Linked DNA regions of Homo sapiens: region 1 is linked to region 2. The links come from fine-mapping of genetic effects on gene expression. Tissue or cell type: lung. Region 2 holds a variant in brackets; the other region holds the start of a gene. All regions are shown on one strand. Distances are from middle to middle.

The links. PIP is the estimated chance that this variant, and not a neighbour inherited with it, causes the effect. A credible set is the group of variants that fine-mapping cannot tell apart.
Region 1: it holds the start of CYP2F1, and the variant in region 2 is the best candidate, but not a certain one, in a credible set for the expression of CYP2F1 in lung (TOPMed, PIP 0.52).

What each region holds. Positions count from the first base shown.
Region 1 is chr19:41,112,744-41,115,654 of GRCh38, reverse strand. CYP2F1 (cytochrome P450 family 2 subfamily F member 1) reads right to left here and starts at 1,223. Exons shown (of 10, transcript NM_000774.5): 1 at 1,163-1,223.
Region 2 is chr19:41,079,982-41,082,892 of GRCh38, reverse strand. No RefSeq gene overlaps it. Among named protein-coding and RNA genes, the nearest start is that of CYP2A13, 7.0 kb to the left of the region's middle. The variant C/A (reference allele first, on the strand shown) is at 1,501.

The sequences.
Region 1 (2,911 bases), 33 kb before region 2:
TATCATCTATCATTGATCTGTCTATTATCTATCATCTATTATCTATCTATATCTATCATCTATCTACTATCTTCATAATCTATCATCTGTGTATCATCTGTCTATTATCTATCTATCATCACCTGTCTGTCAAGAGACTGTCATACAGAGACAGTGATAAAGAGAGATCAAGACACACAGGGACAGAGACAGACAAACACAGAGATAGGGAGAGCCAGAGAGCACATCACAGAAAGAGAGAGGCTGACATAGACTAGAGAAAGAAAGAGACAGAACTAGACAGACACAGAGCTAGAGAAAGACAAGGGAGATTGAGTGGAGAGACAGTGAGATGGACACTGACTGAGAGACAGAGAGGGACATGGAAGGATGGAGAGAAAAAGGGTAAGAGGGACAGAGAGAGGGAGAGACAGAGCTAGACACAGAGACTGAGGGAGACGAGAATGACAGACAGAAACAGATACACAAAGACAGAGTCACATAGACAGAGATGGAGAGAGAGAGAGAGAGAATAAGAGAGGCAGGGAATATTAGAGCCACACAAAGAGACGGGTAGGCTGCAAAGGGCAGACCAAGAGAGACTGAGGCCGGGCACGGTGGCTCACGCCTGTAATCCCAGCACTCTGGGAGGCCGAGGCAGGCGGATCACTTGAGGTCAGGAGTTTGAGACCAGCCTGGCCAACATGGTGAAACCCTGTCTCTACTAAAAACACAAAAATTAGTCAGGCGTGGTGTTAGGCACCTGTAATCCCAGCTACTCAGGAGGCTGAGGCAGGAGAATCGCTTGAACCCAGGAGGTGGAGGTTGCAGTGAGCTGAGATTGAACCACTGCACTCCAGCCTCAAAAAAAAAAAAAAAAAAAAAAAGAGAGAGAGAGAGAGAGAAAGAGACGGAGACAGAGAGGAAGGGCACAGGCAGAAACAGTGACAGGAAAAAATCAAGTGTTGCCAACCATGGGGTTGCATTGCAGAGAGAGAAGCCACCTACTTGGTGAAGCACCAGTAAAGAAATCCCAGTGCTCAGAACAGGGACATGAGAGCTCTCAGAGGAAACAGCAAAAAAGATTCCTAGCCAGTCTCAGAGACAGAGATTGGAGCTGGCGACCCACCCTCTCTTGGGAGACACCCCCTCCTTCTCTGCCTCCCTCACCGGGGCCCTTTACCTGCTGAGCTGCAGGAGACACTGGCTGGGATGCGCTAGAGCCTGCAGCTCTGGGTGTGCTTGGGGGGTGGTGGGGCAGAGGTTGTTCTTAAGTTGTTTCTGCCCACACCCTCCTCCTTAACCCCACTTTTCTTGTTCTCGCTGTGAACTTTAAATCCCTCCCATCATCTTGCCATACCTTTCCTGCGGCCCTAGGGCTCACAGCCAGCTGGAAAGGTGCCGTGGGAGGGGGCTGCGCCTGGGGGCCCTCCTGGGATGGGGCAAAGCTTTCTTTCTTTCTTTGTTTTTTTTTTTTGCTTTGCCAGTTGGAGCCTGGGCCTGGTTTTGGGGTAGTCATGGGGCTGTCGCAAAATGATGGGCCAGGGATGGGGGCTGGGTTCCTTTGGTATTTGGGGCACTTGTTTCTTTTTCTCTGGGTTCAAGTCCATTTCTGCCACTGATGGGCCGAGTGGCCCTGGCTAAGTCCCTTTCCCTCCAGAGCTGGAGTTTTCTCTTTCTCTGGAAGCCTATTTTTTCATAGTTCTCCATGCTGTTCCCTGTCTCTTGCCGTGGGTCTCTGAAATGCTCTGTGTCTTGCTTTGCTTCTGCCTCTACAGTCTCTGCCTCTGAATCTTTTTGTCTCTCTGTGTCTCTGTCTCTCCCTCCTTTGGTGTCTCTGGGTCTTCATTTCTTATGCTCTCTGGGCTTTCTCCTTCTCTCTGCTTCTCTCCCTGATCTCCCTGTAAGTCCCTCTCAGTCACTGTCTCCTGATCTCTCTGGTCTCTCACTCTCTCTATCTCTCATGTCTCCACGAGTCAGACTGCACTTGGTGGGACTGAAGCCAAGCTGAGGCTGAAGGAGTGTTTAAGAAAAGGGCAGAGCTGGAAGCCACAGGGAAAAAGCCTCTCAGACTAGAATGACACTCTCTCCCACCACTGGCTCATAAACAGCCCTCCTCCTGCCCTCCTGAGCACCCTACTAGCCATGTCTACTCTCAGCTCCTGCCTTAGAAACTCACCCTAGTAGGCCAGGCGCAGTGGCTCACGCCTGTAATCCCAGCACTTTGGGAGGCCGAGGTGGGTGGATCACCTGAGGTCAGGAGTTCAAGACCAGCCTGGCCAACATGGTGAAACCCTGTCTCTACTAATAATACAAAAATTAGCCAGGCATGGTGGCTCACGCCTGTAGTCTGAGCTACTTGGGAGGCTGGGGCAGGAGAATCGCTTGAACCCGGGAGGTGGAGGTTGCAGTGAGCTAAGAACATGCCACTGCACTCCAGCCTGGGCAACAGGGTGAGACTCGGTCTCAAAAAAAAAAAAAAAAAAAAAAGAAGAAGAAACTGGCCCTAGTTACCCACCTCCTGGCCAGGTCACAAGGGCAGAATGCAAAACCTGGAGCTGGGCCAGGGCTCTGGTGCCAGGGGCTAGGCTGGGTGGAGAGCCCCTGCGGTCAAGGGTCTGGGAGGCCAGGTGGAGGTGTGGGTACCCCCACAGGTTCGTGGGTGTGCACCAGGATTGCTGTTCTCAGAGGGGCAGAGGAGGAAGTGTTTGGAGGTCCTGGGGAATTTGACACCCTAGGTCCCAGGCATATGGTGGGGTGGAGGTGGGGCCCATGCTGTTGTTTCAGTCCTGGATAGGCCGGTTGGGGCAGGTCCTGGAAGAGGGCTGAAGGCTTGATGATGGGATTATATAGCTCTAGTTTCCCTTGGCGTCTACTCCCTACTTTTAAGGGGAGGGTGTAGTGCTGTATCCACGCCAACCCTGTAAGCAAC
Region 2 (2,911 bases):
AAGAATGGGAGATGGGGTCACTGCAAATTTATTCTAGAATATTTTTCATCTTATTAAAATCCTTTAAAATGCAGACCACTTCTTGACAGGGAGGGCTAGGTAAACAACAATTCGTAAGGGAACTAATTTTTTTTTTTTTTTTAACATGCTGTGTCTCTTTAAATGTAGAAAGGTGATCAAGATGGCTGACCAGATGCAGGTAGCATGGCCTTCTTCGTGGAGAGGAACTCCATTTTAAACAGATTATCTAGGAGAGAATGCTGGAATTCATCAGAGAAGAGAAGGGATTCAACAGAGAAAAGAAGGGAAGCACAGGAAGTGAGTAAGGAGAGGGGATTGACTGAAAGCTGAGAGTGGCTCCTGGATGAGGGGAAATTATAAGAGAGAAACTCCCAGGGCTCCACACTTTGAAATGGGCTTTTATGATCTTGGCTATGGTAGAAACCCTCAACCCACTTGGGTCTTGGGCCTGACATACGGAGCTCCCTAAAGATTGTGCAGAGACATTGCCCTGGAAAATGGAACCCACATGGAATCCCATTTGAGCCTAGAGCAGCCTCAGCTGAGTGCTGTTTTGAGAACCTGGATACTGGAGATCTATAGAAATGGTTGCTGCTGCTGTGCTGCTTCAAGTAAGTATAGAGGAGACCCAGCACTCCCAGGCACCCATGGGAGGGTCCTTTCTGCCTTGCTGCGGGCTGCTGTTGAGACTGAGATGTGAGTGAACCACATTCCCCACAGCTTCTTACCCTGGTTGCAGGCCCAAGGAACCATTTTGAGAGTTTAATACTGTGCCATGCCCTGCCCTCAGGCCCAGTTTGAGTTGACCTGGCTGCAGCCACCACCTGGCCAAGGAGGGACAGGGAAACAAAGCTCCTTTACATATACCTGGGACAATTTCCCCGACCCTGCTATGGGCTGCTGTGACAGGGAGACTTGAGCAGACCCCACTCCCCACAACTTCTTGTCCATACTGCTTACCAGAGAGGGGCCTGTCCTCTTTGGTCACAAGCCCACAGCTGGCACAATCATAAGAGTTTAATGTTGGGCTCTGTCCCCCTTTTTGCCAAGTCTGAGGTGATGCCACTGTAGCCGCCACCCAGATGGGGGAGGCACAGGGGAGAACAAGCTCTCCTAAGCACACTTAGGTCAATACCACTACCCTGCTACAGGATGCTGTGGGACTGGGGAGTAGCCCACCCAACCCATTGCATCTACCAGCAACACCAACATGGACTGCCTGGGTCCTAGTGGATTGCTCCACCACCACTACTGCCATCACCCATATCACACCAGGTTGTGCTTCCCAGGGGCCTGAGAACTTGCCCACATCCCTGTCCCCCAACTCCCATGACTCCTCTAAGCAAGCCACTAGGAAGCTCAAGAATCAGCCTCCCAGGACTCACTAATACCAAAGCCAGTAGACTGCTCTGGGGCTCAGCCATACTCTCCAAGCTGCTGCCACCACCAGGGCCCAAAGATGGGCTCAGTTGGCATCCA[C/A]CACCCAGCTAAATTTCTCCTCGATCTCAAGTAATAACTGTACTCTAAGCTACCAAGGAAATCAAAGATACCAGTGACCCTGGGTACTGCCTATGAAGTCATACTAAGATCACACTACCATAGGCACCCAGAATCAAAGCCAAAGTATCCTACTCAACTAACAACATGCATACATTTTTCAGGAAAAAAATTTTCTCCTACAGGGCAATTAAAAAAACTTGAACAAGCTACTGCTACACAAGATTTGCAGATATCAATGAAAGGACACAGGAAACATGAAAAAGGAGAAAAATGTGACATCATCAAAGGACCACAATTGTCCAGCAACAGATCCCAATCAAAAAGAATCCCTCAATATGCCAGATAAAGAATTCAAAATACTGATTTTATAAAGCCCTACAAGATGCAAGAGAAATTTGAAAATCAATACAAAGAATTAGAAAATCAGTCCAGGAAATGAATGAGAAATTTACCTAGATAAATAACTTAAAAAAAAAAACAAGCAGAAACTCTTGAACTAAAAAAATTCAATGAAGGGAATACAGAATATATTCAAAAGCTTCAATAGTAGACTGGACCAAGCAGAAGAAAGAACCTCAGAACATGGCTGGGTGCAGTGGCTCATGCCTGTAATCCCAGCACTTTGGAAGACCAAGGTAGGTGGATTCCTTGAGGTCAGAGTTCAAGGCCAGTTTGGGCAACATAGTGAAACCCTATCTCTAAAATTAGAAGAAAAAAAAAGAATCTAAGAACTTGAAGACAGGTCTTTTGAAATGTCCTGTCTGACAAAATAAAGAAAAATAAATAAAAAAGAATCATCAAAGACTTTGAGATATCTGGGACTACATAGTGTGACCAAACTTATGCATTTTTGGTATTTCCAAGGGGGAAGAGAGATTTTAAAAAATTAGAACACCTATTTTTAGGAAGTAATTGATGAAAACTTCCACATCTAGCAAGAGAGTTAGACATCCAGCTACAGAGCCCCAGCAAATACATTGCAAAAAGAACTTCACATAATAGTACATTTAGAAAGTCTAAAGTCAAGAAGAAAGAAAGAATTTTAAAATTAGCAAGAGAAAAGCATCTAGTTACCTATTAAGAAAACTCATCAGACTAACAGCAGACTTTTCAGTGGAAACCTTACAGGCTAGAAAAGAAGAGAATGGCATTTCCAACTGCTGAAAGAAAAGTACTGTCAGCCAAAAATTTTATGTTCTGGCAGAATAAGCTTCATAAATGAAGGAGAAATAAAATCTTTTCTAGAGAAGCAAATGGTGAGTAAACTTGTCAACACTAGCCTGTTCCTATGGGAGATGCTCAAATGGGTCTTAAATATGGAAATGAAAGGTCAACACTCAGCGTCATGAAAACACACAGAAAAATAAAACTCACATTTCTTATAAAAACA